2 linked regions of the Homo sapiens genome follow. The protein of the gene in region 1 purifies or fractionates together with the protein of each later gene. This does not show direct contact. Each region holds a gene or a part of one and is shown on either strand. Other genes may lie near its edges.

What was found.
Region 2: the proteins of PLA2G7 (region 1) and PTPRN purify together in Homo sapiens (affinity purification with mass spectrometry; 3 studies listed by BioGRID and IntAct, with this or other methods). This does not show direct contact.

Annotation. Positions count from the first base shown.
Region 1 is NC_000006.12:46,733,614-46,737,362, forward strand, and holds the start of PLA2G7 (platelet-activating factor acetylhydrolase precursor), read right to left. Parts: upstream 1,763-3,749; 5' UTR 1,567-1,762; intron 1-1,566. UniProt on the Homo sapiens protein: Lipoprotein-associated calcium-independent phospholipase A2 involved in phospholipid catabolism during inflammatory and oxidative stress response.
Region 2 is NC_000002.12:219,289,047-219,292,474, reverse strand, and holds the end of PTPRN (receptor-type tyrosine-protein phosphatase-like N isoform 1 precursor), read left to right. Parts: intron 1-951; coding exon 952-1,005; intron 1,006-1,584; coding exon 1,585-1,649; intron 1,650-1,863; coding exon 1,864-1,937; intron 1,938-2,177; coding exon 2,178-2,249; 3' UTR 2,250-2,852; downstream 2,853-3,428. UniProt on the Homo sapiens protein: Plays a role in vesicle-mediated secretory processes. Required for normal accumulation of secretory vesicles in hippocampus, pituitary and pancreatic islets.

The sequences.
Region 1 (3,749 bases):
GTAGGCCTGCTGGAAAATGCCAAGGTGGTGCGCTGTCTCACCACTTTCTGCAGGGCCAGCAGAATTCCTCTGTGAGGGAATCTGCCTGGGTGATGGAGGCTCACCAGTGCCTCGTGACCAGAAGGCCATCTGCTTCTTCTTGATCAGGCCAGTGCTTAATGCTCAGATCTCTGAATTCAATGTAAGCTCAAGGTTTCGTGCTGAGCCTCTTGGGATTGCCAACACCTCAGGGGATACATTTTCCAGCTCCTACCCATATACCAGTCTCCCAGCTCAGCATTCTCATTTGGATCAAAAGTAATTTGTGCAAGCCTGATTTGTTAACACATCCCAAATCTGAATCCGTGTGCCTTTTAAAGGTGGCAAGCTGCCATTTATGAGCCATACGCACCTCTCCTTCCTCATCACCACTGCAGTAATCCCAAGAACCACAGGCATGAATAAAAGCCCGAACTTTTCGTTTTTGGTGACAGAAATTTCTCTTACAAGCTCCAGGAGATGATGAGGAAGACAGTGTTCTCTGTTTTCTGATTTTGCTTAATTTTTTAAAAATGAGCCTCTCCCTTGACTTGGTGACACAGCTGTGATCTTATCTGGCCGGCAGGGGGATGCTCCAGGTAGGACAAAGAGTGCTTTGTTTTGTTCTTACAGCAGCCACGCATAACTGGGCTCCAAAAACGCAATACTCCTCAAAGGGAGAGTGAGAGAGAGGGAGAGAGGGAGAAGGGTGTGTGAGAGAGAGAGCGGAGGGAGAGAGAGAGAGGAGGCAGAGTGAGAGGTGTGTAGTGGTGTGTGTGTGTGTGAGAGAGAGAGAGAGAGAGAGAGAGAGAGAGAGAGAGAGAGAGAGAGAGAGAGAGAGAGAGAGAGAGAGAGAGAGACGGAGAGAGAGATTGTCCCTGTAGGAGATCTACAGATAAGAAAACTCCGGGGCGGGCGCGGTGGCTCATGCCTGTAATCCCAGCATTTTGGGAGGCGGAGGCGGGCGAATCACGAGGTCAGGAGATCGAGACCATTGTGGCGAACACAGCGAAACCCCGTCTCTACTAAAAATTCAAAAAAATTAGCCGAGCGTGATACGGCACGCCAGCAGTCCCAGCTACTCGGGAAGTTGAGGCAGGAGAATTGCTTGAACCCGGGAGACAGAGGTTGCAGTGAGTCGAGATCGCGCCTCTGCACTCCAGCCTGGCGACAAAATGAGACTCCGCCTCAAAAGAAAGAAAGAAGGAACGAAAGAAAGAGAGAGAGAGAGAAAAAAAAGAAAAGAAAACTCCATGTGTTCCCTGCCTGTCCTGATTCTCCCCCCAGCTCTGAGCTCTTAGGGTTGCTTCCTTTCGGGAAAAGGTTTGGAAGAACTGGTGTCTAATACCGTCATCCTCTCCCTCTCCCCGCAAGGATCCTAGCGCTGTTTCCGAGGGCTGCAGGGACTGTGAGCCCAGGACCGGCCAGCAGAGCGGGTGCGACTCAGCGAGCCCACCCCGGCCGGTCGCCGCTCCGGGGTCCCGACCTCCAGCGCGGCGACCGTGCCCTTCCTCCCACTCCCGCCTCGCCCCCGGGGCCCCTCCTCACTCAGGCGCGGCGCGGAGCTGCTCGCGGGAACTGGGGTCCCTGGGCGCGTTCCACCGCGCACCAACGCGACCCAAGCGCTCCAAACCCGACTGCTTCTCGCCGACAGCACTGCGAGCCTCCGACCAGCCGCTGTCCCCCTGGCTGCGGGCCGAGCAGCTCTGGCAGGCGGCGGGCGGGTGGGCTGCGCGCGGGCTGTGTCCTGGGTCCGCCTAGCGCGGCCTTGTGGCCCCGACCCTCTCCTCCCCTGGTGATGCTGGAGGAGGTACCGGGGAGGAGCGTGTGTGGCCCCGGCCTCTCACTAGCAGCGGCGGCTCCCGACGCTAGCCTGCTCGAGCGCACCCAGCACCCTCCCCAAGACCATGGCCCGCACCTGGACCCGCGGTTAACTTAGCCCGCCGCGGAGAGAGCCAGGCAATGCCTGGGTGGTGTCGTGCTCACCAGCTCCTTTCCGCAGACCTGATGCCGATCAGATTTACTCCCTGCTGAATTCACCCCCCAGTCAGGCCGGTTTTCCTTGTTTCACCGTGTTCTCTGAATACACTGAATTACTCCGAGCATCTATAGTTGGCAATGCCCTGCGCATTTTCCGCACTCCGATACACTTTACACTGAACACCAATTCGGAAGTTGTGTGGACCGTGCTCCAGATTGGAAGGCCTGCCACTGTGCTGGTGTCATTTCTCCCTGGAAATGACAATGAAGGACAATCAGGAATAGCACTTAGGTCTGAGGAGAAATGGAGCTAGAAGGAGCCGTTTCATAGCTCAGTGTAACACAGAGTTATTTGGGGTTTAACTGAAACGCCTTCCTTCATCTTCCAATGTTTTCTCTTCAATCCACTTTCTAATAAATTAAAAACACACTCATTTAAAACTTCAGCTAGAAACTTAGGGAAAGTAGTTTGAAATTTATGTGTGGTGTTATTAAAATTTTATATTTTTAAATCGTGTTTTGGTTTTTGGTGAGGTGCCAGAACTGGAGATGAAATTTTGCTTATTTTGATTTTGAGTATTCTGCAGTAAGATGGCCTGAATTTTAGCTTGTTTCTCCCACTTATGAGTGGTGTGACCTTGGGGAAGTTCATCATCTCTGCTTCTCGGTCTCCTCATCCATAAAATCAAGAAAATCAAAATCAGTCAGTCAGAGGCAGTTTGTGAGCACGAAATGCAAATACATGTGAAATGCTTGGGACAGAGCTTGGCCTATGGGAAACATTCATTCAATATGTGTTATCTAATATTGATAGCTTAATGAAGCAGTGACTCATTTAAACCTAACAATAGATTTTATTTTTAATTTAAATGGAACTCTATCCGCCTAATGACATTGTCTTGTACTTCCTGGACTAACCCCCTGTAAAACAAATGGCCCACAAATATCAATCTAAAAGGATACATTATGCCCTACCAAAGACATCTCTAACGTCTTCTTTTGACCTTAAGACAAAGGTGAAGACAAAGTTGAAGTTGAAGACCTAATCCCACACTAAAAAGGTGGTAAGCTTTGAGAACAGCTCCTGAAAACAAGTATGCAACATTTTATTCACTTCTCTCATTGCCAGCAACATGTCATCTCCCATTGTCATTAGGTCATATTCTCTGAGCAGCCCCACAGCAGTTGGCATTTGGCAGGTTAGTGCCCTGAGAAGATGCCCAGTGAAGAGTGCCCAGATTTAGCAAATAAAAATGCAGAACATCTGGTGAAATTTGAATGTCAGATAAACAATAAATAGTTTTTTAGTATAAATATGCCCCATGCAATATTTGGGACATATACTAAAAAGTTATTTGTTGTTTATCTGAAATTCAGATTTAACTGGGCTTCCTGTATTATATCTGGCAACCCAGTAAGTAAAATTAATAAAGAATATTCCTCACATTCCAAGAGGATAAGTCAACACAGACATACAGATTATAAGGTGTGTCTGATATGGGTTGTTTTAGTTTTTTATGAGTTGGTTCTTTGTTATTCTGTTTCCTACATTTAATTCCTCCTCTCATTTCCCATTGACATAACAGTACCTATTTCCTCTTTAATATGAATGAAACTGATGTCTCACCTCTTCCCTTCAATCAAGATATTAAATTGTAATAATGTGCTCAATTTCTTTTTCTTTTCTTTTCTTTCTTTCTTTTTTTTTTCTTTTCTGGAGATATGGTCTCACTCTGTCACTCAGGCTGAAG
Region 2 (3,428 bases), on another chromosome or scaffold:
GACTGTGAAGTTCCAAACTTCAATCTGACAACCCCTAAGAAGGTCTTCCCTGGTTCTGGCTTGCAGGGATATCAGGAGTATGCAGGTGACTCCCAAAGCAGAAAGGTCATAAAGGACAAGGGCAGGTTAGATGGGTCCATTGAGAGACGGAGAAGCCCCCTGCTCCTCACTGAGTTGTGGTCAGGGGCAGTGGAGAAAGGTCTGAGGTCCAAGGGGACCCCAAGTCTGAATATAACGCAGCCACAGAATGCCTGTGCTGAAGTGAGACTGCTCCAGGGAGACAAGCAGTAGCACAATGTCCCGAGTTGAGGGGTTGGGGTTGTCCTCCCCTGGCCCAGGGAACACTATGCCCAGGGCAGCCTGATGTCACAACTGGTAAGGACCACTGGAGCCTGAGTCGGGAGGAAAACAGCCTGGGTGGTCATAAAGAATGGCAGAGGGCCAGAGCAGGGATGTGGCAAGACTGACACCCTTGAAGTCACCAGAAAGCTATCCCCTTGGACTTGGGCAGAAGTGTCTCTTAATATGATGATGTATTATCATTAATAGTTGCCACCTGCTACCATGTATTGAGCACCTATTGTGTGCCAGACCTAGCACTTAGCTCTTTACATGGGTTATCTCATGTGATCATTGTAAGAACCCTAAGGAGGTTTTTCTTACTATCCTCCATTTTACAGGTAAGAAAACTGAGGCTCAAAGAGGTTAAATCAGTTGTTCCAGGTGCATAGCTTGGGCACCTAGCTTGCAAGTGACAAGGCGAGCCCAATGCCACCCACACCAGCTCTGGTTCTTTGCCTCCAGCCCTGGCTCCTTTCTCCAACCATCTTCCCTCTCTGCCCCGGGCAGGTGGGGAGAAAAGGAAGAAAGAGAGGCCCACGTCATGTGTTTCAGCTTCCCTTTCCCTCTCTGCTGGTGCCCACTGGCCCTCACACCCATTTCTTGTTGCAGGAAGGTGAACAAGTGCTACCGGGGCCGCTCCTGCCCCATCATCGTGCACTGCAGGTGGGTGGAGAGGAGATTCATCTCTCTGGTCCCACTCCCTGTGTGCGTCTCCTGTGCACATTGCCTGCCTGTCCCCTTGGTGCTAGCAAACTGCAGGCATAGTCCAAATCCAGCACACCACCTGTTTTTAATGGCCAAGACCTAAGCGTGGCATTCACAGTTTTAAATGGGTGAAGAAAAAAGAAGAAAAGTATGTGATACAAACTGTATGTGGCCCACAAAGTTGAAAATATTGACCATTGGCCCCCTATACACAAAAAGCTGGCTGAAGGCTAGAGAGGCCCATCCAATTCCCTCCTGCTGCCTCTGCTTCTGGGCTGAGCCATGGCTCTCCTCTTTGGTTGTCCCATTGCCCAAATGACACCCACAGGTCACAGACTCCCCTCTCAAGGCCCAAGTCCCAGCGTGCAGGTGCTATGAGCTTTCCTTCATCCTCGGCTCACTGTCCCTCTCCAAGCCAACCCCAACGGGTCACCCAGTGTCCTCCCCTCCCCCAGGCCTCCAGGCCTCCTCGCCTCCTCCGTCCCTCCCCCTTTCTGCTGCATCTCAAGCTAAACCTGTCACTAACTCCTGTTTCAGTGATGGTGCGGGGAGGACCGGCACCTACATCCTCATCGACATGGTCCTGAACCGCATGGCAAAAGGTAGGGAGCTTCCCCACGGTGCCCGCAGCCCCCAGGCCCTTTTTAGAGGCTCCCCAGCACACAGGGTCCTGGGAGCTCAGAAGGAGCAGGTTGTCAACCTCCAGGCTCTGCCCAGCCCTCCAAGGCTCTTTGCCTCCAGGAGGCCTCAGGTTTTCTGGGTCCTGTCCTCCTCTGGACACCCCCTGAGCAGCCCCATCCCCACCTCCATCTCCAGGAGTGAAGGAGATTGACATCGCTGCCACCCTGGAGCATGTCCGTGACCAGCGGCCTGGCCTTGTCCGCTCTAAGGTGACCATGCCTTCCTGCCCCAACCCCAGCTCCCACCCTTCCCTAGCACCCACTTCTTGGCCACCCCAGGGAAAGCAGCAGCTGCCAACCTTTCCCACCTGCTTCTGCGCCTCCTCCAGGAGGGCTCCCTTCCTCCCAGGGGACCTGCCCAGGGCCCTCCCCCCACCAAAAGCCCCCCATCTTGAGGGCAGAGCACAGGTCAGCCCTCTCCATGACCATCCTACCACTGCCCTTCCTCAGGACCAGTTTGAATTTGCCCTGACAGCCGTGGCGGAGGAAGTGAATGCCATCCTCAAGGCCCTGCCCCAGTGAGACCCTGGGGCCCCTTGGCGGGCAGCCCAGCCTCTGTCCCTCTTTGCCTGTGTGAGCATCTCTGTGTACCCACTCCTCACTGCCCCACCAGCCACCTCTTGGGCATGCTCAGCCCTTCCTAGAAGAGTCAGGAAGGGAAAGCCAGAAGGGGCACGCCTGCCCAGCCTCGCATGCCAGAGCCTGGGGCATCCCAGAGCCCAGGGCATCCCATGGGGGTGCTGCAGCCAGGAGGAGAGGAAAGGACATGGGTAGCAATTCTACCCAGAGCCTTCTCCTGCCTACATTCCCTGGCCTGGCTCTCCTGTAGCTCTCCTGGGGTTCTGGGAGTTCCCTGAACATCTGTGTGTGTCCCCCTATGCTCCAGTATGGAAGAATGGGGTGGAGGGTCGCCACACCCGGCTCCCCCTGCTTCTCAGCCCCGGGCCTGCCTCTGACTCACACTTGGGCGCTCTGCCCTCCCTGGCCTCACGCCCAGCCTCCTCCCACCACCCTCCCACCATGCGCTGCTCAACCTCTCTCCTTCTGGCGCAAGAGAACATTTCTAGAAAAAACTACTTTTGTACCAGTGTGAATAAAGTTAGTGTGTTGTCTGTGCAGCTGCAACCCAGACTCCTACGCATTTCTGTCCGCTGTGCATCTGGACTCCAGCCCCAGCCTCAGCCCGGAGCCGGTCCCTGCTGGTCTCTCAGGAGGTGCAGAGAGCACAGCAGGAGAGCGCCAGCTGCCAGTAAGGCCCTTCTAGGTGGGAACACTACGTTAGAACGAGGCTTCCTATGCAGCCAGCAGTCTCCAAGGTGCTTTACATGATGAGTCCCATTTTACAGATGGAAAGACTGAGGCACAGAACTTGCTTGTGGTAACACGTAACACAACTTGTAAGATTGTAAGGTGCAATGGCTCATGCCTGTAATCCCAGCTCTTTGGGAGGCTGAGGCAGGCAGATCACCTGATGTCAGGAGTTGGAGACCAGCCTGGCCAACATGGAGAAATCCCGTCTTTACTAAAAATACAAAATTAGCCGGCCATGGTGGCTCGCGCCTGTAATCCCAGCACTTTGGGTGGCTGAGGCAGGCATATCACCTGAGGTCAGGAGTTCGAGACCAGCCTGGCCAACATGGCAAAACCCTGTCTCTACTAAAAATACAAAAAAATTAGCCATGTGTAGTGGCGGGTACCTGT